Regions from separate parts of the Homo sapiens genome. Here all the other regions are linked to region 1. The links come from fine-mapping of genetic effects on gene expression. A gene starts in region 1. Each other region holds a variant in brackets. All regions are shown on one strand. Distances are from middle to middle.

What was found. PIP is the estimated chance that this variant, and not a neighbour inherited with it, causes the effect.
Region 2: its variant is the best candidate, but not a certain one, in a credible set for the expression of TC2N in whole blood (INTERVAL, PIP 0.81).
Region 3: its variant is the best candidate, but not a certain one, in a credible set for the expression of TC2N in whole blood (TOPMed, PIP 0.78).
Region 4: its variant is the best candidate, but not a certain one, in a credible set for the expression of TC2N in monocytes after Pam3CSK4 (Quach 2016, PIP 0.88).
Region 5: its variant is the best candidate, but not a certain one, in a credible set for the expression of TC2N in whole blood (INTERVAL, PIP 0.73).

The regions. Positions count from the first base shown.
Region 1 is chr14:91,865,216-91,870,215 of GRCh38, forward strand. It overlaps TC2N (tandem C2 domains, nuclear), which reads right to left and starts at 2,321. Exons shown (of 12, transcript NM_001128596.3): 1 at 2,047-2,321. FBLN5 (fibulin 5) reads right to left here. Exons shown (of 11, transcript NM_006329.4): 11 at 4,196-5,000. RefSeq lists an enhancer at 2,487-2,536.
Region 2 is chr14:91,772,924-91,778,255 of GRCh38, forward strand. No RefSeq gene overlaps it. Among named protein-coding and RNA genes, the nearest start is that of CATSPERB, 44 kb to the left of the region's middle. The variant A/G (reference allele first, on the strand shown) is at 2,738.
Region 3 is chr14:91,887,535-91,892,855 of GRCh38, forward strand. FBLN5 (fibulin 5) reads right to left here. Exons shown (of 11, transcript NM_006329.4): 6 at 3,687-3,803. Among named protein-coding and RNA genes, the nearest start is that of TC2N, 23 kb to the left of the region's middle. The variant A/G (reference allele first, on the strand shown) is at 3,068.
Region 4 is chr14:91,806,468-91,813,020 of GRCh38, forward strand. TC2N (tandem C2 domains, nuclear) reads right to left here. Exons shown (of 12, transcript NM_001128596.3): 3 at 5,845-6,078. Among named protein-coding and RNA genes, the nearest start is that of TC2N, 58 kb to the right of the region's middle. The variant C/A (reference allele first, on the strand shown) is at 2,910.
Region 5 is chr14:91,918,284-91,924,493 of GRCh38, forward strand. The region is part of intron 4 of FBLN5 (fibulin 5); the gene reads right to left. Among named protein-coding and RNA genes, the nearest start is that of FBLN5, 26 kb to the right of the region's middle. The variant C/T (reference allele first, on the strand shown) is at 4,266.

The DNA of each region.
Region 1 (5,000 bases):
TTAATGATTTATTTCTCTGATGGCTGCTGGCTAAGATTCATTATTAAGAACCATTAGTAAGTCAAACATTCTAACTGGAGGCTTTCATCCCCGCAAAAGCTACCAAAGTGATAAATTTTGCCTCTGTGCACTCCTTTGTCTTGGAGCCTCTTGGTTTTTTTTTTTTTTTTTTTTTAAAAAAACATCTTTTAGCTATGTTCAGGGATTCCAACAAAGATATCAGCCATTTGTTAAGTAACAGGACTAAGAAATTTGAAAACAAAAATATCAGCACAAGGAACAATCTGTATATTTGTTTGTAGTTTATAAGCATTGGCCAATTCCAAAATAATGAAGAGATTTGCTAAGTGCTCACGTTTTTTTTCAGATAAAAAAATATTGCATTTAAAGTAAACACAAATTGTATCAAAAAGAAAAAGTTTATCTAGCATTTATTAGTGTTTCCTTTCAAAATACTTAATAATTCTAAGCAGAGGCAACTTATTCTAAATTTCAAACACATGTCTATAAATTTTCATAAGAATTTTTCTTGTATAAAACAGATGTCTTAATAATTTTTAAAATCTAACTAAAATAATTTTGTGGACCCTGCTACTGCACCTACCACATTATATTCCAGTTTTGTCGTGTATGCTGCATAAACCCCTGGCTAAAGGTGTTATTAAAAAGTTATTAAAGTTTTAGATTAACTTTTTATAAAGTTTTAATAACTTTTAAAGTTATTAAAAAGTTATTAAAGGTGTTATTAAAAAGGTGTTATTATAAAGTTATCGGTGGACTGTCTATCCTGTTCATGTCTCTGAATCCAGCAACCGGCTTAACCAAAGTGGATTCTTAACCAAAGTATGTGATCCTCTCAAGACAAAGACCTTTTACAAACAATATTTCATCTGGCAAGAGGGGAGTAGAGGAGAGTTCCTTTGTCAAGTCTTCTCTCTGTGGGTGACCCCGTTGGCTCAGAATGAACAACTTGGGCACATTACAGTAACCACCCAGGCCACAAAAATGCGTTGAAACCACTGAAAATGAAATAATCAGACCTACTTAAATGTTTTTACCATCTGGGCAAATAACACCCCAAGGGCCAAGACTTACCTAAGAAAGTGTCTGAAGTATGTTACCCAAGCCTGAGAGGCAACAGGTAGGTGGATTTTGTGCCAATTAGAAAGTGTTATGATTGGCAAACCACTGCAAAACTCTGAAATTGCAGTGAAATGGAAATGCTGGCTGTCATCCCCAAAGTACATTTCAAGGAATCACAAAACTTCAGAATTAGAAGCAATTATTTAGGATGAACGTTTTCACCCACATGAAAGTTGGAAGATGAGGTGGTAACACGAGAGCTTTTGCAGGCGTCCCTACTCTTAATCCTGCGCCCCTTCCACCTTGGTACCCTTCATTCTTCAGGACCTGATGGAGTGGTACAAAGCAGAGGTCACTTGACAAGCTCAGCCCAGCTCCTGGATGGGGCAAAGCTGACAAGGAATAGGCACAGGGAGCCTGGAGATCTCAGGGTCCAGGAAACAGCCTGCCCCATTAGAACTGCACAGCAGAGCACAGCACTGGGATCAGAGAGCAGGCTCATCCCCAGTCTTGTACAAAAAATAACATTTGATGATTCCCAAGGGGTAGGTAAAGCAAGTAGCATTTGGGGTTCCAGCAGCCTCTAGAACTGTTTCCCAAATGTTTGGAGCTTGACTTTGCAGTATACACTTTGCCCTGGACTGTTTTTCTCTTAATTTTTAGGCCCAAGTGTATTTTAAGGTAAATGGATCCCACATGCCTCTGGTGCATTTACACTGAACCCATCAGACCACATTTTGAAAGCGCAATTTGAGGTCCAAGAAGCCCTTGGAGGCTGCTTTTATGAGCCTGAGTTTCTTTTCTTAGAAGCAGGAAGCCACATTTTGACATGAACAAATAAAACACAAACCTTAAAGACTCGGATCTGGTTCCAAATGTGGCACCTCTGAAACCAGTGGGTCCTCAAATCATCAAGACAGAAAGCTTCCCAGTTTTCTTTTTGAGAAGTTCATGGAGACTTACCCCTGTGTTCTGTTGAGCCCAGAGGCAGTGGTTCGGAGGCGCTCGGTGCAAAGCTCACGTAAACCTTCAGCATTTCTGATTCCATCCTTCTTCCCAGCCCCTGAGTCTCCCTACACAGCAGGGACCCAGGCTCACTGCTGCCTTCTGGCCTTTGCTTTTCGGAGCCGAGCTGAGTGAGTCCCAAGGGAATCACCCTCTGTTTTATAAGCTTTGAAACCAGAGCATCCTGAGCCATTTGGTGCTGATGTGATTGCTAACACCACTTGACCCTGACTGAAGAACCACAACTAGGCATGGTTTAGATGTGCTTAGTTAGAGAAAAAAATAACCACAGCCAACAGCAAAGTGAGGTGTGTGGTGTGGGTGTGAGAAATGCTCTTGGGGTGAGGAGGGAGGACTTGCAGCTTCTTGGATGCTACAGGGCGTGGAACATGCTGTTTCCTTCCACTGAAGGCCTAAGATACTACTAAGTGGAACAGGAGAATTCCCTGGCCCCCTCACAGGATGTGCAACAGGGGTGTGGCTCTCTCTTCAGCCACCCCAAGCTAAAACCCCTTATGGGAAGGGGAGCACGCAGACAGGCAGGTGCAGGAACCAGGGTGAGCACTTTTGGGCCCCAGCCCCATGACAGCATCCCGGGGTCGGTGTCTGTGACTTCCAAAGCCCGAGTAGGCACTGAAACAGTGCAGTCTTTCAGCCTTGCCATCCGTGGACAGCTTAAGCGTTAACCAGCTTAGTGGACCCTCTCCCTTTTTGCCAGGGCAGAGGGCCAGTGTGACAGTTTCCTGTATCCCGAGCTCTTGTCCAGCATCCCGGAGGGATCAGGTCACACATGGATTTGCAGGATGAATGCAGGGGTTTTATTGAGTGGTGGAGGTGGCTCTAAGTAGGATGGATGGGGAGCTGGACAGGGGATGGAGTGGGAAGATGATCTTCCCCTGGAGTTTGGCCATCCAGTGGCCAGTTTTCAGATCGTCTCCAGTCGAATTCCTCCCAATGTTCCTTCTCTTCTCTCCTTCTTTGCCGTGCTTTTCTGCCATTCATGTCTGCTCATCTTCTTGTCTCCCCGTCTGCTTCTGGAGCCTGGAGCCTGGGGTTCAGGGTTTATATGGGTACAGGATAGGGGACATGGCAGGCCAAAAGGCAACTTTTTAGGGATGAAAACAGGAATGGCTGTCCTCATTTAGGGCCATGGGTACCCAGGCTTGAGGGTGGGGCCTTTGCCAGGGAACCACCCTCTTCTACCCAGTATTTCCCTGTCTCCTGTCCATATCACAAGGATCTGTGGAATGCCTACTAAGACTAGGGGTCCAGGACACAACTCCTGATAGGCACTGTGGGGGTCCTTAATGAATACCTCACCAACAGGTAGGATGGGAGCACCCTCAGATGGATCTGTAGACTCCACCTCAGCTATCAGGGAGTGCACTTTTTTCCTGAAGCCTTGGGTTGATTCCTGGGATGGCACATAAAGACAGCCATCCCAACCTGTTCTCCTGTGACTTGCAATGTTGACTCTCTTGGCCCCTGCACAGGGTTCTAAGACTTGAAGGATGTCCAGAGGCCCTGACCAGGAAAAGAATAATGTATCCTACAATGAGCAGAAAAGACATTGAGGGCAAGGCAGCTAGGGCTCCAGCCCCATCTGTCCACCTCTCTTTCTAGGGTTTATAACAATACATTCTCAACTCTGGCTACATAGTCAAGTTTTCAAAAATCCTGATGGCCGGGCCCTACCTAAGCCCAATGACATCAGAGTGTCTGGGGGCATGTCCCGGGGAATCAATCTTTCCTCCAAAGTTCTACTGGTTATCCGTCTATGCAGCCAGGGTTGAAGGCCACTGGTTTAAAGTAACTTGAATACATTCCTGTTCTGCAGGAGCACCGGAAATAATCTACGTAAGAGAAGGATTGTTGGTTGTTTTCTAATCAGATGAAACAGGACTCAGGGATGATGCCTCCCCCTAACTTCCCCACGACCCCTATTTCTCTGCCCCACCGCCCCCCTCCCATCAATTTGCCAGAGTCACAGATAATGCCCTAGCTCTCTGGAGAGCTTTCTAAGCCAGCGCACAATAAACAGGTTTAAACAGAACTAGAACCCCAAAGGCTGACTCGTCTATGATGTCAAAATGAACCAAACACAAGCTCTCTTCAAATATTTAATCAGTTTGGAGACCTCTGCATTCCAATCCAATTGGGTAAAAATTCTAAAGAAAGCAAGATTAAGGGGTCCTCAAAGAAAACACTGGGCTAAAATGGAGAGGAGACTGGGTTTGGGAAGACAGAACATAGCATGTGTCTGAAGGCCTTTCGAAGGAATTCTACGACATATTTTTTAAAAATACTCAAAATGAACAAGACAGAATTAAACCGTTATACAAATTTAAGGACAACTGAAACTTCTTTTATGGTTGAAAATACCAGGCATGGTTTTGAAACACATTCTCTAAAAACCCTTCGATCCTGCTGTGGTTTGTTTACATAGCCTTCTCTGTGTACGCAAAAAGCAAACTAGCTACTCCCAGGGTTCCCCGCCAGCTCCCGGGTCTTTGCAAAGCAGTAACACAGTGAGAGAAGGAGTGGAAGAGGTGAAGAAGTGACAGCAAGCTGTTCACAGTCTTTGAACATAGACTCAGACCCCCGCAAACCTAATCTATTTTCTTTGAAAATAGTGGAAATAAACTGAAGGCCTTGAAAATTCACCAACAATCTTCTATCAGGGGAGCAATGATAATACTTTTTGATAACTGTGTCATAGGAACTGGGGGTGGCAAGTCCTGCAGGGTGACAGGTCTGCAATAGTACAGGTGAGAGTCAGGAAGTCGGGGCTGACTCTTCGGGGAAACGTTCAGCAGGAAATGCCTAACGTCTGTGTCGCTCTCATTCTCTCTGTTATTTCCTCTCTTCTCCTGTCCCTTGGTGCCAATGAGAGGCAGCGTCGGAGGCTCCAG
Region 2 (5,332 bases), 92 kb before region 1:
TTTTTCACCTTCTTTATCTGCAGACCTATTATCTGTCCTTCCTGGATAAGGAGAGGTAGAGGAAACTGTCCCGAGTACTGAGATGTACATGGGATGAGGCCTGCTTCTCTTACAGCCTCTTCCCTGAATCCATTTCCTAAATTGTATCAGGAAGGGTCTCCAAAATTCTCATTCTCTCCCTCCAGGAGTAGAACTATCATCTAACCGATTTTCTACGCTCGTCTTCTTTCCTACAGAAGTCTTATAAATCCTGTTTAGGCCAGTAGACAACAACTACAGTACTTGTTTATGTAGGGTCACTTAAACATGTTAGTTACATCTTATAAGAAAATTTCAAAGCTGGACACAATCTAAGTATTGTTCCTACTTTATACAGAAATCAAATTTAACTCATTCCCTGCAAAAAATAAATGTTTTAAATAAATAAATATAATTTTTGTTCTTAGTAATGATATACATTAAGCTGCTAACATGTAATGATAAGGCAAAATCGGATAAAGATCTCAGCAATCTACTAAATTTAGCATTATGTGTTATAAACACTTTAAAATTTCAGAAGTTTTTTGTAAGCTTGATAGTATGAGTTAGATATGAAGCTATTATATTTCTTTTCTCTGATTAAGAAATGTACTAATGAATTTTAAAGTAAATATGGTAATAATGTATTATACAGCATTATCTCTTTCAATAAGAAGATATTGGCCTTAACTACCACTTTACTGAGCCATAAAACCTAACTCTATGTGTTCATTCATTTTTTTGTTGGTTCACTGTTAAATCCCTAACACTCAAAACATTGCCTATCGGTTAAATGTGTAAATGAACAAACATTGACTATGTACCTCTTATAGGCCAGATACTGTACTAGGTTCAGGAATGCAGCAATAAACAAGACCCTGCTTTCATGGAAATTACAGTCTAGGAGAGACAACTACGTAAGTTAACTATTTAACCATAATTCTGATAAAAGCTATAAAGAAAAAGCATAAAGTATATGAAAATAAGACCTAATATTGCTTGAAAAATCAAAAGAGACTTTTCTGAGGAACAGATATTTAAGCTGGCACCTTCAAAAAGAGAATAGGATTTAGTAAAGGGAAGAGTAAAGAGAGAAACTATTCCACATAGGTGAAACAGGATGTGTGAAGATCCAGAGGAAGCTAGGTGTGTATTGTCTGTCTTCCAAGAACTGAAAACAGATCAGTGAGATTAAAGAGGAGAATTGTTAAAAATAAGGCTGGAGTGGAAGGCAGAGCTCAGATTATACAGGGATATTGTAAATTTTTAAAACTTCCTATTTTCTTGATGCCTCAACATTCCCACAAACAGGCTATGAACACTATGTCTGGGCAATCAGGTGCACCAGTGTGAGAAGGCTGGTTCCTGCCACAAGTTCCCCTTTTTGTTATTCTGAGTGTGATCTAGTGACATTCAAACACTCCAATGAAACACTCTCATGCTTTTTGCTTATATACTGTACCCTGACCACCAACAAAGGCCCTTGTCCATAGGTCCTTCCCCCGACCCTCTCTCTCTCTGCTCCCCACCTGCTTGGGTGAGCTCACTCCCTGGGAGTTCCTCCCACATGCCCCCTGCATGGCATGCCATACCTCCCTCTTCTAGGACCTGCCAATATAATAAATCTCCTTCATTTTCATATGCCTCTCCATGGTGTTATTATTACATGTCCACATCTGACCGATCATCAAAAAAACAAACAAACAAACAAAACCCAACCCATTTTAAGTAACATAATTATTCCTTACAACACAACAGGAGAAAGGGGATCAGGATATGTCACCTCAAAGTATGCCACTTTGGCATAAAGATTTTGAGCTGAAAGCAACTGAGAGTCAACAGATGTAAGAAGAGTTCTTTGCCGTCCCCTTAACTGCCTAAAAGCAGGGCATAAATTATGCTTTGTGAAGGTGTTCTCCATACTCTGTGGACCAGGAAGAGGAGTGACTTATCACCGGAGATGGAGAGTCAACACCGAGATGAGTTTGCACAAACAGACCTAACTAAAATAACCCTTATCCTCCATTAGTTCCCCCATGTATTTCCTAGTCACTTCCCCACAATTTATCTCTTAAAGTCCAAACCTCCTTTCCTTTATTAAAAGGGTATATAAACTCCTAATCTAATTACCTCTTTGAGTTTCACTTTTCTGTGAATACTTATGCATGTAAACATTAATAAAAATGGTGTCTTTTCTCCTGTTAATGTCATTTGTTAGTTTGATTCACAGACCCCCATTCATTGAATATAAGAGGGTAGAGGAAAAGTGGGTCATCCCCTACAAGGGCCTTGTAGGCTGTGTTAAGGATTTTGGACTTCATACTAAGAGCACCGAGAACCAAGGTGTGACAATCAGATTATAAGGAAAGTACAGTACTACAGGTGGGATATGATTTTGCCTTTGATTAGAGAAGTTGAAGTGGAGATGGAGAAGTGGGTGCATTCAAGATCTATTTAGGATATATATATTTCTGAACAGGGTGACTTGAGTATGGGAGATAAGAGAAGAGTTCCAAGGTGTGATATTGATATAACATAGATTTGGTCTTTGTCGTTGACTCCTGGCACAGAGCTCCTAAAACCCTTAGAAGGCAGCTATGCTCACCACTGTACCATCAACACACCTAAGACCCTTGGAATTTCCTAAGCAATAAGTGTGATGAGGCATCTTTTCTTATATTTGGTTTTTGTCCCTGGCTCCTGAAATAGCTCCAGAGCG[A/G]TGAAGGTGAAAGTAGCATCTTGTGTCATTCCTAACAAGCCCCTTTCAAACACACCCCAGTTTATGTTAATGAGGTGACTTTTGGAAAGCCGTCAAGAATGAGGGTCTTGTTGCCAGGAAAACAAAAATATAGTTAAGAGGGTTGGAATTTTCAGGTCCATCTCCCAAGCCCCCTCAACCTCTGGGGAGGAGAGAGTGGGTAGAGACTGAGTTCAACCACCAATGGCTAATGACTTAATCAACCATGCCTATGTAATGACATCTTCATAAAAATCTTAACTGAAGTCCAGAGGGCTTATTGTTGGTAAGCATATCGAAGAGCCTGCAAGGTGGCACTCCCCGAGTGGGCAGGGAACTTCCACATCCCTCCCCACTGGCTTGCCCCATGCATCTCTTCCATTTGGCTGTTCCTGATTTGAATCCTTTATAAAAAACTGACATATGTACATAAACTGTTTCCCTGAGTTCTGTGAACAATTTTAGCAAATTATCAAACCTGAGGTGTCATGAGAAGCTCCAATTTGTAGTCAAGTAAGACCAAAGTTGTGGGCAGCCTGGAGACCTGCCACTTATGATTGGCATAGGAAGTGGGGGGCAGTCTGTGGAACTGGGCCCTTAATTTGTGGGGTCTGTGCTAACTCTGGGTAGTGTTGGAATTAAGGTAAATTATACAACACCCAGTTGGTGTCCACAGGGAATTAAAGAATTGCTTGGTGGGAAAAGCCCACACATTTGGTGTCAGAAGTATTGTAAGAATAAAGAAACAGCTTTTCTTGTTTTAATTTCCCCCCCCCCCCCCAGCACAACCAGAATACAGAAAGAGAAATAGTTTTTCCATTTACATGTGTTAGTAACTGGTAGAAAATGATTCCAACAAATTTCTAAATAATTATTAGAATTTAAGTGTAATTAACTCAATGAATAGGTTTCTGGGATGACCAACTAGGTGGATGACAGTGCCTTTTACTCAGATGGGGAAAAGTGAAGATCACACTTGTGGTAGGAATGGGAAATCAAAAGTTTGATTTAGAACACGTTTAAGAAAAGATGTCCACATTAGCTATATGACAGTGGAACTCATAGCAAGATTTGGGTAGAGATGTAAATTAGACAGTAGATAGCATTTCAAGCCATGGAAATAGATGACGTTGCCCTGGAAAACAGTGTGGAATGACAAGAAAAGGTGGCCTATGACTGAGTCCTAAAGAACTTCTACTTTTTAAAGTCAGGTGCATGAAGATGAGCCGAACAGAGAAGAACAGACTAGGAAGGTTGTTAAAAAAATAAGCAGAGCATAATGACATGAAAGCCAGAGGAAGAGACGGTTTCAAGGAGAGAGGCAGGGAGAGACAGAGAGAGAAAGAGAGAGAGAGAAAGCTATTGTTAAGAAAGTTGATGAGAATAAAGGAAAAAAAATAGCTGAAAAGCATTTATTAAGACTTTAACATGAACTTTGGTGGAGTGGTGAGGATGGAAGATTGAAGAGAATGGACTAAGGACAGAGCGGTTAGAAATTATCTATAAAGAGGAGAACAGATAAGGCAGAATCTAGAACAGGAGAGGAAGTCTAGGAATATTTTTTTAAGAAAGAAACCACAGAGAAAGGTGACCTAACGGATGCTATGCTGAGAAACCAACCTTCCTATTCATTGAGTTAGTTACACTTAAATTCTAATAATTACTCAAGAATTTGTTGGGATTGTAGACTACCAATTACTAACACTTGTTGAGCAAGCAGACATGAAGGCTATGCTTGGGAACAGTCGGGTGGAAGAAGGAAAGTGAGGAAAGAAACTCCTGTGAGAATGAAAAGAGCTTCTGGTGCTGAGAATCTTCACTGGCTATGCATAGACTCACCCGTAGCAGTCCAACCCAGGGAAAGCTTTGGGGACCTCGGAAGACACACCTCTATGGGGAGCATGCTGCATTGGCTCCTGCTTTATGTAACGTTTCTTAGTCCATTCAGGCTGATATAACAAAATACCATAAACTAGGTAGCTTACAATGAACATTTATTCCTCACAGTTCTGGAGGTTGGGAAGTCTAATATCAAGATGCCGGCAGATTTGGTTTTGGGTAAAGGCTTGCTTCCTCATAGAAAGTCATCTGTTCACTGTAACCTTAGCTGGTAGAAGGGGCAAGGGATTTCTTTGGGTCTTTTTTATAAAGGCACTAATCCCTTAACAGCCTAATTACCAATGCCTTAACGACCTAATCTTTTCCCAAAGGTCCCACCTCCTAATACTATCATCTTTGGGGTTAGCATTTCAACATATGAATTTTGGGGGAACATAAACATTCAGTCCATCGGTGTTTACACGGGTTCCTTCATCAATACAAAAACCTAACCCCCAAAACTGTATCCGTAGGGTTCTTTGCATCAAACACATCACCAACCAATTTTGATACAGCCACACACCAGAGGTTTCAAAGATGAAACAAAGAATCCAGTAGAGTGAGTGGGAATGGTTCAAAAATAGGAGAAAATGGGCATAATAAATGGAACGAAATCCCAGAGAATGCGGAGAGGACTGGGTTCAGAAGTCATGAGGAAGGACTGGCTTTCCAACATAATGGGGGAAAGGATGTATATGG
Region 3 (5,321 bases), 22 kb after region 1:
AGGCAAAGTGGAAACCATATGTATACACATGATATAAACATATACACATATACACCTGCTGGTAAGTCTATGCTCCAACGCACCCCCCCAACCAGGAATTTCCAGGCAATACCTGCTCCTTCCATCACCGGTTGCATTCCATCAGTGAACACCCCTCACCCTCACTGACTTGGAAGTTTCAGGTTAACAAATAACCATGATGATTCTAATAATATATTTATTATGCATAAATAACTTTGCTCATTAGGGAAGGATCCTGCACTCACTTGATCCTTACAACGAGGACCATTGGCCCACTTTAGAGGTTAAGTAGGTTAAGGAGAAGACCACCAAGGGACACAAGGACTAATGGGAAATCCATTATCTTGAGTGTGGTGGTGGTGGTTTCATGCGGGTACACGTATGTCAAAATTAATAAAATCATGGTGCAGTTTATTATACACTGACTATGCATCAATAAGATTGTTTAAGCATTTTTGAAGGACCAGGCATAGTGGCTCATGCCTGTAATCCCAGCACTTTGGGAGGCTGAGGCAGGTGGATCGCTTGAGCCCAGGAGTTTGAGACCAACCTGGGCAACATAGTGGGACCCCATCTCTTCAAAAAATTTAAAAATTAGCCAGGTGATGTGGCACACGCCTGAGGTCCCAGCTACCCGGGAGGCTGAGGAGGGAGAATCACTTGAGCCTGGGAGATTGAGGCTGCAGTGAGCTGAGATCATGCTACTGTACTCCAGCCTGGGTGACAGAGTGAGACCCTGTCTCAAAAAAAAATAAAATAAAATTATAGGCTGGGTGCAGTGGCTCACACCTGCAATCCCAGCACTTTGGGAGGCCAAGGCAGGTGGATTACCTGAGATCAGGCATTCGAGACCAGCCTGACCAACATGGTGAAGTCCCGTCTCTACTAAAAAAATACAAAAAAATTAGCCAGGCATGGTAACAGGTGCCTGTAATCACAGCTACTTGGGAGGCTGAGACAAGGGAATCGCTTGAACCCCAGAGGCAGAGGTTGCAGTGAGCTGAGATCACGCCACTGCACTCCAGCCTGGTTGACAGAGCTAGACTCTGTCTCAAAAAAAAAAAAAAAATACATATATATATATATACACACACACACAGACACACACACATATACATATAATTGTTTTTGAAGATTGAGAGGTGTACCCAAGTCCACCAGCTAACAAGGACACACAGTGGGAACTGGAACATGAGTCAGGGGTTTTTCCACAAAAACCAAGATTCATTCTGCACAGCTCATCGTGCGGGGAGGGCAGGGAAGAGTCTCTTTCCCACTGGCATTGGTTGACCCATTGTAAGCACCATCCCACAATGCTCCATACACCAATGGCCAAAGTTCCAACTGAGAGATTTTCTATCCTCTTCCCAAGTCCATGTAAACCTCTTAGGCCTCTGAAAAGAGATGTCAGTGTTTTCAGAGCTAAAAGCCTTCACGGTGAGCAGACTGAGAGGCTTTTCTTACAGGGGAGGCTAATCCCATGGCCACAAAGTTCCTGCCTCCTAGCATCTCTGGAGCTCTCAGGGAGAAAACAAATAAATGAACAGCTGTAGAGAGAGGGTCTAGCAAGACACTGGCCCCCACCAGTGCCCGTGGGAGGTTGGGGTTTCCCCACCGGGGACAGGAGGGGGTAGGAAAATGTCCACTGTGCTAAGCCACTGAGTGCAAGTTCAGACAGGACAGTGCCGGCAAGTGTTAGGGCTGGTGGCCTCAGCCTCTGGCCAGGCGCTGGCCACTCGGAGGTGAATGAACTCATTCCACCCCCTCACCGCTCTCAGCTGCTTCTGAAGAGCAGGGCGACCAAAATGATTCTGCCCCCCTGGGGTTCTCACTGCCCTTTCCTGCCAGCCCTTTCCAAATGCCCTTCTGAATCTGCTGAGGGCACACAGGGCCCCACTCCAACCTGTTGGACAAGAAGTCTGGGCCCCTGGTTTTACTCTCAGATCTGCTACCACGTGGCTGTGTGACTTTGGCCAAGTTGCTTAACCTTTTTGAGCCTTTATTTCCTCAGTGAAGCAGAGCCACAAACACCTGCCTGCTGACCTCAAGAGGCTATTTATTATTTGGGTTCAGTGAGATGAACAGACGTGACAATGCTCTAGCGTGTACAGCACTCTTCCACACACGAAGAGTCAGGATTGCAAAAGCTCACCGGAGTATGCGACGCCCTGTGCTGCCCATGGGCCCTGCTGATGCAGCATCCCAGTGGCTGAGTGCCCATACCCAGGCCTGGGTGCCGGGCCTGCTGCTTTATTATGCTGTGGACTTGGCACTGCCAGGTGTATTATCTGCTCTTTGTCACACACCTGTCCCTCAGAGGCCTGAAAGACGCAGGCACCTTTTGGCTTGGGCATGGCTATGCCTCAGGAGGTACTGGGGGCACGGTGCCAGCCTGTGGCTGGCACCTCCAATCCCAGGCCTTGGCACAGAGAAGCCTGCATCTGCCCTAAGCTGCTTATCACAGCAGCAAGGGAGCCAGGCGCCCCCTCCTGCTCCAGTGGGAAGGAAGGGCCCTTGTTTATCCGCTTCCTCAACCTCCTGGCCTGGTGTCTACTCTCAGAAGAAAATGACCTCTTTTGGCGTGAGGAACACAGTCCAGAATTCTTGGAACAATTAGCAGAACAAGCTTTGGAGGAGAGACTTAGAAAGAATCCAGGGTCAAACTCTTTAACACTGATGCCTTCCTATTTACCGATGATTTAGATACAATTAAAGTAAAGGAGACCTAATAGCCTCCAAACTCAATGGCCAGGAGCCTGCCAGCCAGAACTCCAAGGGTGAATGAAACAAGGAAATGGGCCCTGCAAAGCCTGAGGTCTCCAGACAAAGACCTCATTCTGCGTCTGCAGCACTGCCTCCAACTCCAACCTGGGCCAAGCAGCTGCCAGGGGCTGGAGGCCTGGGCCGGGAGCTGGAATTTGAGGGGGAAGTCGGGGGCCAAAGCAGGATTTGCGCTAATTCCTTGGGTCTTAAGTCCCCCATTCACTTCCTGAGCAGAAGAAACCTTCAGATGGAAACCACAATAGGCATGCAACTTGTTTTTCTT[A/G]CTTATCAGTATTTCAAATGATCATGTGAAAACCACAAAATGCCTTTGTTTCAGTCTGGTTTTGTGGGGGCACGCTGAGTAGCAGGGGATGTTACCACCACCACCAGACCCTTTGCTGAGGAACAGGCCATCCTGGCACAGGTTGGAGGGAAAAGTATAGCAAGAGACCTCAGAATCGCCCACGACACCCCTGCCTAGCATGGATGTGTTTATTTTATGATTCTTGGAGGGCCAGGGACCCTGACCAACCCTCCTCAGGCCTCAGGAACTGAACTTAGGCTACAGGACATGCAACCAAATTTCTGATTAGGCAAGAAAGCCAGCAAGGCTACTTCTGGATAGCAGACACAGAAAAGAAGCGAATCCATGAAACTGTACACTCCCAGCCAGTGGAGGATTGGGGTCCTACCCTCAGCCATATTCAGAGCACTTTTTGAGATGCTTCGCATAGCAAGGTTCAGGTCTCACGTTTCTGTAGTAATGGGGATGGGCGGGCAGTGGCAAGGAATGGGAATATACTGTAGCAGCAGTATTTCCCACAAACATAAGCTGCCAGGTGCTGAAGAAGGCTGCAGCTAGTGTCTCACATCATGTCCAAGTTATCATGCACGTCACATACCTTGGCAAGACCTTCCATCCTCATTGAGGGTAAAACCAGGGTTGCATGTACAAGAATAGGATCCAGGAACATTCGCACAGAGCTGCTGGCAGTAACCATAGCGACATTCATCAATGTCTGGAAACAGAAATGCAAGCAAAGTGAGACAGGTCTCCTCACTCAATGATGCCCCCACTAGCATGGCATGATTGCCTTGCTCTTCCCAAACAGGATCATGAACGGAAGCAAATGGGAACAGGAGCCAAGACAGTGCCTACTGAGTGTCACGGATGGTGATGCTGTCTCGAATACAAGGCTCAATCTCCCCACAATCTTTCCCCTCCTCGACCCATCTCAGTCCCATAAATACCTGAACCTATCCTAAAAGTTGCAGAAGAAATTTCTGCTTCGATTGGGATGTTGGGCAAAATGAGCTCTCCAATTTTACCCAGCTCTAAGATTCAACACTAAGGTTTATCCAAGATGGACTCTCCAATTTTTCCCAGCTCTAAGATTTGAGATTACCCAGCTCTTAAGATTTATCCAATGTTAAGATTCAACTCAAAGATTCCATATAGAGGCTCCACTGCCCAGGATTCTTCTTAACACGTAAGAAGAATCCATAGCATCACTCCAATAGGCTCCTTGCCAGCTCCATGAACAATGAATATGTCCAGCTGTCAGGAACAAGAGCCAGTTAGGCTGGGATGAGCTGGGCAGCATGACCCTGGAGACCCATGAATCCAGTAACATGAGGGCACTGGAATTCACCCTGAATCTCCTCCTTGCACCAGAGTGAACATAAAACTCTGGATAAACACATCTCTTCCAAGCCACAGCTGGCCTTGCCAGGGAAAGCGGCGGCACTGTGGGTGAATGGATCCTTTGAGCAGAGCTGGGCAATGTGACCTCCCTGTAATATGTATCCATCAATGGGGAGCCTGATGTCATTGGGAAAGCACTTCTCAACACCCCAAGCTGATGTGATAATGGGCTGGAGAATTCATTCCTGTGGGGTAAGGGTAGTGAATGAAATCACCGGCCTCCTGGCAGAGTCTGAGATGGCACCAATACAGGCTCCTGCTGTGACCAGTTGATCTGACTGTAGCTGGAACTGGTCCTTATCCCCACCTCCCCCAATCTAACCAGGTTTCCTCCCTGGTCCCCCTGTTCCTTTGGAACCAGGGGCCATCCAGGACTCTGGAAGCCGGCTTAGAGCCTCAGTCCTTGTGCCTGGTTTCTACCTACTGCCAGGAAGGACTCCACCTCCCAGATCCATCTTGATCCCTTACCTATTGTTCAGCCCTTCTCAGATTCTGTGCCCTGTCCTGTGATTCTGTTTTGTCTCTAAGTCCCGGCTACTTCTAACCTGGCCACTGCACTGCCCCTGAGTGCAGAGCAGCTCTTGCATAGAGGGCCCATTGGCTGTACAGTGGCTGGCCCTGACTTCTTCCCAGAGTGCAGTTGGGCACATCACCAAGGCCAGGCAGGCAGCAGGGGCTGGAGAGGGTACCCTTCACTACGGGTACCTTGGAAAAAAGGCAGCCCCCCTGACCCCTCATTTTTCTGCAAAAGCAGCATCTTCAGTGGTACACAGAACAGACAGTGTGTGGCTATGGAACTTGCATTTTGAAAGGGAAAGGTGAGTTTAGCCAG
Region 4 (6,553 bases), 58 kb before region 1:
CAGGCCAAGGTGGTCTCAGGTAGAGATGAGGAACTTGTTGGGAACTGCAGTAAAAGTGGCTCTTGCTATGTTTTAGCAAAGACACTGGTGTCATTTTGCCCCTGCTGTAGAGATTTCCGAAACTTTGAACTTGAGGGAGATGATTTAGGGTATCTGGTGGAAGAAATTTCTAAGCAGCAAAGCATTCAAGAGGTGACCTGGCTGCTGTTAAAAGCATTCAGTTTTAAAAGAGAGCATAAAAGTTCGAAAAATTTGCAGACTGTCAATGCAATAGAAAAAAAAAACACATTTTCTGAGGAGAAATTCAAGCCACCTGCAGAAATTTGCATAGGTGACAAGGAGCCAAATGTTAATCATCAAGACAATGGGAAAATGTCTTCAGGCTATGTCAGAGACCTTTGCAGCAAGCCCTCCCATCACAGGCCCAGAGGTCCAGGAGGAAAAAGTGGTTTCATGGGCCAGGCCCAGGGCCCCCCTGTTGTGTGCAGCCTAGGGACTTGGTGCCCTGCATCCCAGTTGCTCTAGCAATGGCTAAAGGGGCCAAGGTACAGCTTGGGCCATGGCTTCAGAGGGTGGAAGCCCCAAGTCTTGGCAGCTTCCACATGGTTGAGCCTGCAGGTGCATAGAAGTCACAAGAATTGAGGTTTGGGAACCTCCTCCTAGATTTCAGAGGATGTAAGGAAATGCCTGGATGTCCAGGCAAACGTTTGCTGCAGAGGTGGGGCCCTCATGGAGAACCTCTGCTAGGGCAGTATGGAAGGGAAATGTGGAGTTGAAGCCCCCACAGAGTCTCCACTGGGGCACTGCCTAGTAGAGCTGTGAGAAGAAGGCCACCATCCTCCAGACCCCAGAATGGTAGATCCACCAACAGTTTGCATTGTGCACCTGGAAAAGCCACAGATACTCAACACCAGCCCGTGAAAGCAGCTAGGAGGGAAGCTGTACCTTGCAAAGCCACAGGGGTGGAGCTGCCCAAGACCATGGTAACCCACCTCTTGCATTAGCATGACCTGGATGCGAGACATGGAGTCAAAGGTTATCATTCTGGAGCTTTAAGATTTGACTGCCCTGCTGGATTGTGGACTTGCATGGGGCCCTTAGCCCCTTCATTTCAGCCAATTTATCCCATTTGGAATGGGTGTATTTATCCAATGTCTATACTCCTATTGTATCTAGGAAGTAATTAACTTTTGATTTTGCAGGCTCATAGGCGGAAGGGACTTGCTTTGTCTCAGATGAGACTTTGAATTGTGGACTTTTGAGTTCATGCTGAAATGAGTTAAGACTTTGGGGGACTGTTGGGAAGGCATAATTGGTTTTGAAATGTGAGGATGTGAGACTTGGGAGGGGCCAGGGGCAGAATGGTATGGTTTGGCTGTGTCCCCACCCAAATCTCATCTTGAATTGTAGCTCCCCTAATTCCCACATGTTGTGGGAGACACCTGGTAGGAGATAATTGAATCATAGGGGCAGTTTCTCCCATACTGTTCTTGTGATAGTGAATAAGTCTCAGATCTGATGGTTTTATAAGGGGTTTCCCCTTTTGCTTGGCTCTCATTGTCTCTTACCTGCTGCCATGTAAGACATGCCTTTCACCTTCTGCCATGATTGTCAGGCCTTCCCAGCCACATGGAACTGTGATTCCATTAAACCTCTTTTTCATCATAAATTACCCAGTCTCAGGTATGTATTCATCAGCAGCGTGAGAACAGACTAATACAAGGTGTATCATCTTTTAACTTTTATACCATATTTTTACTGTACTGAATACTGTATTTAGTATAGTATACAGCATAGTAACATATTGTATAGGTTTGTAGCCTAGGAGAAATATGGTATCCATATAGCCTAAGTGTTTAGTAGGCTACACCATCTAGGTTTGTGTAAGTGCCTCTACACTGTCCATGCAATTATAAGATAGCTTAACAACAACATTTCTCAGAACATATCGCCATTGTTAAATGATTCCTGACTGTGCTTGCAACACAATTTTAGTCATTATTGATAGCAGTCTGCTCTATTCACTCAAAATCTTCTCTTTTCTCAACCCATCATTCACGTGCATACATACATACACATATTTAACTTCTTTAATTAGGTACCACCTTACTTTCTTGACTCTAATAAAAGTAATTTTCTCTTTAATATATACAAATCAGATGGTTTTACCACTTCTTCAGTGAACCTATAATTTAGGAGTTAACCAATTTCTTCCTCATTCAACTCAAAAAGCAATGTTTTCTAGTGAGCACAATGTCAAGAACATAAGAAAAACTATCACATATTTCCAGGTGGATATTTCTTACCTTTTTTCTGATTATGAAAATAATAGAGTAAAAACTCAAAATTATTTAAGAATAGAAAATTCATTAAAAAAATTACAGTATGTCCATATGAAGAAATACTATGTATTCATCAAAAAGCAACAAATATGAAATGTTCACAACATATTATGTGGATGAAACAACTTACAAGGCTGCATGGTTTAATCCCAATGTTGTTAATAAGTATGAAAAAAAAAGAGAAAGATCAATTGATTGGGTATTCTGTAAGCCAGAACTTTTTAAAACTATTTTTGAGAAACACTATTGATATGCGCAAAGTAAGATGATAGGCCAGGCACTAGGTTCATCTTTTCTTTTCTCTAAAAAATTAAAATTGGGCCAGGCATGGTAGCTCACGTCTGTAATCCCAGCAATTTGGGAGCCCAAGGTGGGTGGAATGCTTGAGAATAGGAGTTCAAGACCAGCCTGGCCAACATGATGAAACCCCATCTCTATAAATACAAAAACTAGCTGGGTGTGGTGGTGTGCACCTGTAGTCCTAGTTACTCAGGAGGCTGAGGCATGAGAATTGTTTGAACACAGGAGATGGAGGCTGCAGTAAGCCAAAACCATGCCACTGCACTC[C/A]AGCCTGGGCAACAGAGTGAGACTCTGTCTCAAAAAAACAAATTTTAATTTAAAATTTAAAAAATCACTCCTACCAGACCCAACTCTCTTGTAGGTAACAATAAACTCTAGACCAAAACTAAAACAAAGCAAGAAAATAAAAACCCTGAAGGCAATGAAGAGTAAAGAAAAGTAATACAGATCTGGACAGGAGTTGATTCTGGGGAAAAAGGTAATGGCACAAAGTGAGTTATCTGTTTTTAATGACTTTTAGCCTGAGTACACATCAAAGTTGGCAACACGCAGGGTATATAAAACCCCAATAGAAAACTCACAGTCTTTCTAGCCTGAAGAACCACAGGGTACAGTTCAAGAAAATCAGAGCTGCAGGAAAGTAAGGTGGGAATCCTGGAAAGGAGAGATTCCCAAATTCTGTAAATAAAGCCTTTTCAAATATCTGTCTCATCTCTGAACTACCACCCAAGAGCTGCCACCCAAGACAAAATCTGTAGTTTAAGTCCAACCAGTTTACTTGTCTGGTAGGAGGGAGGAAGAAAGAAAGGAAGGAAGGGAAGGAAGGTGTGTTAGTCTGTTTGTGCCACTATAAAGGAATATCTGAGGATGGGTAATTTATAAAGAAAAGCAGTTTCATTTGCTTGCTGTTTTGTAGTGTGTACAGGAAGCATGGTGCCAGCATCTGCTTCTAATCAGGGACTCAGGAAGCTTACAATCATGGCAGAAGGCAAAAAGAGAACAGGCACATCACACGGCAACAGCAGGAGCAAGAGATGGGCAGTGGAGGTGCCAGGCTCTTTTAAACAACCAGATCTCACAGGAACTCAGAGCTAGAACTCACTTATCACCAAGGAGATGGTGCTAAGCCATACATGAGGGATCTGCCCCCATGATCCAAACACCTCCCACCAGGCCCCACCTCCAACATTGGGAATCACATGAATTTGGCGGGGCCAAACATCCAAACCATATCAGGAGGGAAAGGAGAAAGGGAAGGAGGAAGGGAGGGATGAAAGAAGAGAAGTAGGAAGGGAGGATGGGAGAAAGGGAGGAAAGAAGGAACCTTTTCAGAAGAATGTAACTGAATCTAGAGTCTCCACAACATAACATTCAATATTTTTGATATTGATATCAAGAATACAACCCCAAATTACTCCATATACAAAGAAACAGGAAAATGTGATCTATTTTCAAGAAAAAAGACAATCCACAGAATCCAAACCTAGATGATCAAGATGCTGAAATCACCAGATAAAGATTTTAAAGCTTAAAAACATAAAAGAAAATAGGTTTGCAATACTGTAAAAATAAGAAATTGCAGTAGAGGAAATCTATAACAAAGAACCAAATGTAAACTCTAGAACTAAAAAATGCAATGTCTAAAATAAAAAATTCATGAATAGGCTTAACAGCAGGCTAAAGATAACAGACGAGACAGTGAACTTGAAAAAAAGATCAATATTATTGAATCTAAAGAACAGAGAAAAAAAGATACTTGAAAAAAAAAAGTCTCAGAGACCCATAGAACAATATCAAAAGGTTCAACATAGGTATAATCGGAATCCCAGAAGCAGAAAAGAGAGGGGATAAGACAAAAAATATTTGGACAAATATTGTAGATCTTGATAGAGATTTGGATTACACTGACATATACTTTTGTCAATATTCAACAAATATACACTTAAAATTCAACAAATACACACAAAATTCTACAAATACTCACTTGGGCAGCTCACTGTGTGTAAAATTTATGCCAAAAGAAGAAAACTGTAAAGAGATCGTTGAACCCAGTAAATGATATATATGTTTAAGTGTTTGCAAGGAAATATATTGGTGTCTTCAATTTACTCTGAAATTCATTCCTCTCCAAAAAGTGGATTAATAATGGATAGAAGAATGGATAGGTAGACAGATATTTGCTAAAGCAAGTATAGTAAGTAATCTTAATGGCAGAATTTATGTGGTGGACATACAGGTCTTCACTATTAAGTTTTTTTTTTATTTTCCTGTATGTTTGAAATTTTTCTAATAAAATTTTGAGGGTAAAAAAGCTATTGTGACTTACAGTGTTTCAATGGACTAATACAAATTGTTTTTTAAAAAAACAAGACAAGAGCTACATGTTGTTTCATCTTCTCTCTAATAATTTGGCTTCTACATCAGCCAAATTCTGCCAATGGATCTACCTCATTCAAGTAACTATTTAGACTGGGAAGTACAACCTGGTAGAAGAAAGAAGAGAAGGAAAAGTGATTACTAACCAAATATTAGAAATTAATAAATAAGAAACATGTTTTCTACATTTACTAACTCCTTTACTTTTTCATTCTAGACATGTGACGGATAACTGAGGTATTCTAATTACAGTTATCCCTCAGTATATGTGGGGGATTGGTTCCAGCCCTCTATGGATACCAAAATCCATGGATGCTCAAGTCCCTTATATAAATGGTGTAGTATTTGCACATAACCTATGCACATCCTCCCATATGCTTTAAATCATCTCTTGATTACTTATAATACCTAACGCAATGTAAATGCTACTGAGATAGTTGTCATATTGTATTGTTCAGGGAAAAAATGACAAGAAAAAAGTCTGCACATGTTCAGTACAGATGCAATCATTCTTTTTTTTTTTCTGAATATTTTTGAGGTGCAGTTGGTTAAATCCACAGATGTGGAACCCAAAGATATGGAGGGCCAATTACATATTATTTCTTGAAAAAAGGCCAATTCTACATACAAATTATTGTATTATGATCAGATTTCAAAATGGGACCTTTCAAAACTACTGTACATTAAGTTCTTCTACAGAAAGAGCAAAATATAAAAAGTAAAATAAAAAAATTTTATATGAATTTTGTATTAAAAATATAAAAGTAAAATAATAGCACTTAAATGCTACATATCGATTTTTAAATACTGCTATTTTATTGTTTACCTTCAAGTTCTTCCAGATGTGAAGGAGTTTCTTGTGTCCTGGGTTGAATGTAAGATAACTTAAACTTGGGCACCACAAATGGTACTTCTTTGCCATCAGATGGTAATTTGGAAAGCAAATAATCCTCAGTACAGCCAAGCTGAGGCTTTACAGAAACAGAAGTCAATGGAGGTACAGAGATAGTAGCATTTTGACTATTTGGGACTGCTGCTTTAAAATCTCTTTCCACAGAAACTGCATATAAAAGAAAAAAAAAGTCACAAATATGAATATAGGTTACATATAATAATCTAAACCTAGCATACTTTGATATTTATTTAACCATTTTAGAAGAAATTCCTGACACATAAACTACTCTTGGGTCTTACCAAACACTTCTGGAATCTACATTAATTTTGTCCAGACGATATTTGAGCAATTAATACACTACTGTTAAAGTGCATTAACTTATCATAATGGTAAAAGCAGCTTTAAAGAGTCTTATTCCCAAAAGAATTCATAGATGGAAAACAATTTTATTTTGTAGTCAGTTATATAGTGCTTTCAAGTAAAAATCTAGTCATTTAAAACTACTGTCAACAAAAGCAATTCTTTTGTTGCTGGCAGCTACCCCAGTCGTAGCTTCTATGACCCATTTTATTCATTCTTTAGAATCATATGTGATTCCTAAGCTACATGATTTAAGATGGGAGGTAAGTTATTCTTTATA
Region 5 (6,210 bases), 54 kb after region 1:
GCTTTCTGGAGTGTGTGGCTCTGGATTTGTGGGAAGGACCCCAGCTCTGCTGAAACTGCTCTTGCTCTCTACAGCAGACCCAGATTTTCAGCCAAGAAACAAGAGGGCAGAAGGTCAGGGGACTGGGGGCGGAAGGAGGAGTATCCATAGAGCTGAGCCAAAAGAATGCCATTATTTAAGATATGATTGAAGAGTCTCTCCAAGACTGGCCAAAAGAGGAATTCGATTTGAACTCTGGGGGCTTAAGAATGCTGAGCACCCAGTTTGTAGATTCTTCTGTTGACCTACTGGGGCCAAACAAGGATGGAAGGATGGAAAGAGCATCTTTTCTTTATAAATCCAGTAGCTTGACTTTGTCTACGAGTGCACAAAATCTAAGGAAAGGCATGTTGCTGTTGCTGTTTTCTAACAACCTCATCTTCCTGTTTATCCAGCACTTATTACCCAACTTTCTTGGACAGCTGACCTATCAACAAGCCAGCAAACATTATTGACCCTGTTCTATCTGCAAGACAGGAGATAGGGGATATGAAAGAGACATAAAGATAACAGGACACGAAGCTTTAATGAGTAAGTGGCACAAGCACATTCCTAAGTCTAAGGTAGATGGTGAGAAATGTCCCAACAGAGGCACAAGCACAGTGTTTTGGGAACTCAGAGAAGAGGAGGTTCCAATGGGCTTGGGATGAGATCAGTAAAGATCTAAGAAGGCCTCTGGGAAGAAATCACAGATTAAGGTCATTAAGGATAAGAAAAAAGAATGGCAGCCGGGCACTGTGGCTCATGCGTGTAATCCCAGCACTTTGGGAGGCCAAGATGGGTGGATCACTTGAGCCCAGGAGTTCGAGGTCAGCCAGGCCAACATGGTGAAACCCTGCCTCTAGTAAAAATACAAAAATTAGCTGGGCATGGTGGCATGCACCTGTAATCCCAGCTACTTGGGTGGCTGAGGCAGGAAAATGATGTGAACTTGGGAGGTAGAGGTTGCAGTCAGCCGAGATCACACCACTGAACTCTAACCTGGGTGACAGAGCAAGACTCTGTCTCAAAAAAAAGAAAAAAAAAAAGAAAAGAAAAGAAAAGAAAAGAAAAGAAAAGAAAGAAAGAAAGGAAGGAAGGAAGGAAGGAAGGAAGGAAGGAAGGAAGGAAGGATTACCAGGGGTCTCTGACCTCAAAAGGGTCCCCACTGGAGGAAGAGGGCTGTGTCCTGTGTTATAGGGTGAATCGTGTCCCTCCAAAATTCATATATTCAAGTCCTAACCCCCAGTACCTCAGAATGTGACTGCAATTGGGGACAGGGTCTTCAAAGAGGTAATTCAGTTAAAATGAGCCCGTTATAGCGGGCCCTACTCCAAAATGTCTAGTGTCCTCCTAAGAAGAGGAAACTGAGACACAAACACCCACAGAGGAAAGACAAAGTCAAGTAAAGGAAAGGAAAGACACAGGGCCAGCTATAAGCCAATTAGAAAGACAAGGAACAGATCCTTCCCTTGCAGCCCTCAAAAGGAGCCAACTCTGCCAACATTGTGATCCCAGACTTCTGGCCAGCAGAACGAGGAGACAATACATTTCTGTTGTTTAAGCTGCCCAGTCTGTGGTACTCTGTTATGGCCACCTTAGCAAACTAGTACATTGTGTGGGCTTTCCCCCTGGCCCTGAGCACCTCCCAAGCTTCCAGAGGGAAGTAGACTGCCTTGTCCTTCTCCCTCCCCTGTCTGGTTTCAGAGTTCTTGTTGACTAGAACTTATTAGCGTGCGTGTGGCTCTTGGGGCTTGACTTGGAGTCCCACACACTCTTCCCCACGGTCAGTAGGCTGTGCTGGAATGCAATCCTGGCAAGCCTTCCCTCCTCCTCAGAGTCAAAAGCCAAGTTGCACTATCTCCTGTTGTCTTAATGACTCTATTTTATTAACCCATTTGTGGCTTGTCTGCCTGCTAATGCACCAGGGTCTCCTGCCCCATATTTTCTGTCTTTGGAAAGAGATGATGCTAGCAGTCAAATTCATTCAATGTACAACTATTTATTGAGCTTGAATATGGAAAGAATAGGGCTGTATGATTTACAAAGAGGACTGGTCACTTACTATCCCCAGTGTCTCGAAATGAATGAATTATCTAAACGAATCTTAAAGATCATCCTTCAACCACGGAGAAGTGACTTGCTCAAGGTCATTCAGCTGCTGAATCTGATCTCTTTGCACAACTCATGATTTTTGGAGATTAAGAAACCAGAGACTTTGGGCTTTATTCAGCGCTGCCAATGGCCTGCCAGGTGATCTTGGACAAATCCTGTCATATCACATACCTATCCTCCAGATTTCTCAACCAAACTATAAATGTCCCTCCTTGGTAAAGACTTCCTCAACCCCCTTGGGCAGAATCAGCTGTTCCCACGATTCTCAGTCCATAGCAGCCTTGTGGTGGTTTATGCAGGAGTTGCCAACCCTCCTCCTGGCAAGCCTCCAACCCACATACTCCATTGCCTGTGGCCCCCAATGGTAGCACGAAGTATGGACCAGGTCAGCCCAAGCCTACCCTCAGCACTCCCTTGGCCAAAGCAATATCTTCAGGGGATCTATCATTAGAACTGGTCTTCAACTCCTCTTTGTCAGGGAAGATAGATAACATTTCATGGTTAAAACCCAACTCCAATCTGGCAAAATTTCAACTTTGTTCTTCTGAAGCCAAAGGCTAGTAGGCCTGAGACACAGAGGGTTCTGAAAGTACCACATTGGGAATTCTACGAGGTGTTCTATGCAAGCCAGTCACGACATTTTAATTCTCTTACCCAGATGTCCTGCGGCTTCGTTGGAATTCTGAACCCAGAAAGTAAAATCCGTCACCTGGGATTTTATGAAAATTATCCATGTAATCTTTACCCAAAATTAATAATGACCCTTAGAAAAGGCTCAAGCATGAAAAAGTTAAAGAAAAAGGTAGTAAAGCAGAGAAGAGCTGAGACCAAGTAGCTCCCAGAGTTTCTGCCAATGCTTGTCCTTCTTCCCTCTCAGGTGCAAGACGATTGATTATGAAGCAAGAGGTTCCAGCTGAGCCTTCAGCCAATAGCCAGCTAACAGGTACTTAGCAAGCACCAACTATGGGCCAGGCAGTGGGGATGCAGCAGGTTACAAGGCAACGTTTCTTCCCCTCTTGAAGTTTACAGCTAAGGGATGGGAAAATCAACAAACAAATACATAAAAAGCCACCAATCAGTGGCTCTCAAAGTGCAGCCCCCGGGCCAGCAGCGTCAGCATCACTCAGAAGAAAAGACCCCACCCCAGACCTACTGAGTCAGAAACTCGGCAGCAATCTGTGTTTGAAGGCCTCCGGTGGATTTAATGCACGCTGAAGACTGTGCTGGAAAATGATAAGGCTGTGATTGGGAGTAACTGCGGTGTAATTTCAGACAAGGCAGCCTGAGTAGGACTCTCTAAGGGGTGCCATCTGAACTGAGCTGAAGCCAGAGAGGAGAATGAGCCCGCAATGTGAAGAGCCAGGAGAGAGTTCCAAATAGAAGGAAGAGAAAGTGTGAAGGCCCTGAGGTCCAGAAGGGCCTGGTATATTTGGGGTAGAGAAAGGAGCTGGCATGGTGCCTATGACCAACCAGGGCACGTCGTGGGATGGCCTAAAAGGGCCTAAAGCTGGCGGGCCCACATGCTGGTCAGCCTAAATCACAAGCAAACTCTGGGATGTGGGACAGTCATGGAGCCCTTCCACATATTCTCTAAAATGAAGGGGCAGACAGGCGCGGTGGCCTGTAGTCCCAGCACTTTGGGAGGCCAAGGCGGGCGGATCACCTGAGGTCAGGAATTTGAACACGGCCAACATGGCAAAACCCCATTTCTACTAAAAATACAAAAATTAGCTGGGCCTGGTGGCAGGTGCCTGTAATCCCAGTTACTCAGGAGGCTGAGGCATGAGAATCGCTTGAACCCAGGAGGCGGAAATTGCAGTGAGCCGAGATCGCACCACTGCACTCCAGCCTGGGTGACAGAGCAAGACTCTGTCTCAAAAATAATAATAATAATAAAGTAAATAAATAAATAAATAAATAAATAAATAAATAAATAAATAAAATGAAGGGAAGAACATTCCTAGGCCTGCCTTCCTCCCTGGGCTATTTTGAGAATTCCATGAGCTGGTGGACACGAAAGCATTTGGAAAAGCGAGAAGCAGTGTTCCAGTGGGAATTACTACAATGAAAGGACTCATGGCAGTAACCGCAGGACCCAGCCTCCATGGGGAGAAGTGGAGACCACAACAGAC[C/T]ACAGGCCAGTGCCACCTGGCCCCCAGCCACTGTCTGCTCTCTGGAGAGAAATGAGATTGAGACAATCCTGGAAAAAGGATCTGTTGAGGAGGTCTGAGGTCTGAGGTGGGATTTTCCAGAGACGTCTGATGGTGGGATCGCTTACATCTCTACCTTGTTGGTCAATCTGGGAGGATTCTTGGCTTCCTAAGGAGCTTGTGTTTTGCTCCAGCTGCTTGCAAACTTCCCCCAGGAATTATAAAGGCAGTGTCAGATTTCTCACAGGACCAGGCCAGGCCCTATCATCACAGTGAGAGCCAATTTCATCCATCCACTGATGCCCCTTTTTCAGGGGTCTCGGCAGAGGGCTCATCCCTGTTTTAAGCCTAAAGGAGACTTTGACCAGGACCCTGAGAACATGGAGGTGATGTAATTATGAGGTGACCCAGTAATTAGCCCCTACAGCTTAGACTACATGCAAAATCAATGCCTCAAATGAGAAGATACCATCTCCGAAAGCTGCCTGTCTCCAGAAGCCACCCTTCACCTGGTTGTCATAAGCATCTTTGCATCCTGAGTGGTCAAGGCTGGAGGAAGCCTCACAGATAATGGCCCAGCCCCTCTCATGCAGATGTGAACTGAAGCCCCAGAAAGAGAAGGAACTGGAGCACAACCACCCAATGAGCTTGTGGCAGTGCTAAGACTAGGCTAAGCAGAAATCTCCAAATAGGCTTGTAAACATTTCACTCCCCTGCTCAAAAACCAGTGTTCACAGAATAAAGCCCAAGTCAACTGCATGGAATTCAAGGCCCCACAATCTGGTGGGGAATCTTGAGTGCCAACCTTCTAAGCCTCATCTCTTATTCTGTGCCTGCCCTGCCCACAACATGTGTCCATGCTGCAGCCACACTGGGTGTCATAAGTGTGCAGGTGACCGGTTGACTCATGACCAAGACTGCTCAACATGCAGTGAACTTTCTTGTCTCCATGTCTCTGCCCATGCTGTTCCCTAACCCTGACTGCCCTTCCTCGTCTCTGACATGGAAATCCTATTCAATCCTGCAAAGACTTGCTAAAGGCCACCATATGCATTCACATTCCTCGTGGGCACTCCCATAGCACCTGGGACATATTGCTCTCATCAGTCACATCTGACACTGGCTCATGAAGAGAATCTGATGAGTTATGTACACCCCCCTCCAAAACCCCCACTCACACCCACTCAGCAGAGAGATCCTGAGGGCAGGGACAGCATCTCGTTCATCCTTAGACCCTCCTAGCCCTTGGCAGTGTCTGACACAGAAAAGTGATCAGTCAATATTGTTTAATCAAATGGACGCACAGATATGCAACCCTGTCTTTAGGAAAGCTTCTGTGACCACTCCAGCCAGAGCCAACAAAGTGTCCCATACCTACGTTCGTTGCCATCCCATTTCACTGGGCTACATAAAATTATTTGGGTTTCATATTTCCTGCCAAACCACCCGACTCCCGCCAAGAGGCTGTGAACTCGCCAGGGGGTGATGATATCTGATAAATTATGCCTAGTGTTCCATTATTGGAACGCTAAGCATGTGGGAGTTATTTATATTCTCCTGTTCAAGGTCATCACCAAGGTCTGATTGCAAAAATTTTAAAAATTGCAACATCAGGCATAAATGGGTTAATCTTTACATGCACAGCTCAGACCTCAACACATAAATGGTAAATGGATAAATGAATTCCATCAGTGGTCATAAGTTAACCTATGTAGAAACTGTACCTAATATATAATCCATTTCTCTTTCTCATTTGAATCCCACATATATAATTCACTCATGTAGCTTTTCTGCTTATTTAACAAATATTTATCAGGCACTAGAAAAATACTATGGTGAGACCGCGTGTGGTGGCTCACGCCTGTAATCCCAACACTTTGGGAGGCAGAGGTGGGCGGATTGCCTGAGCTCAGGAGTTTGAGACCAG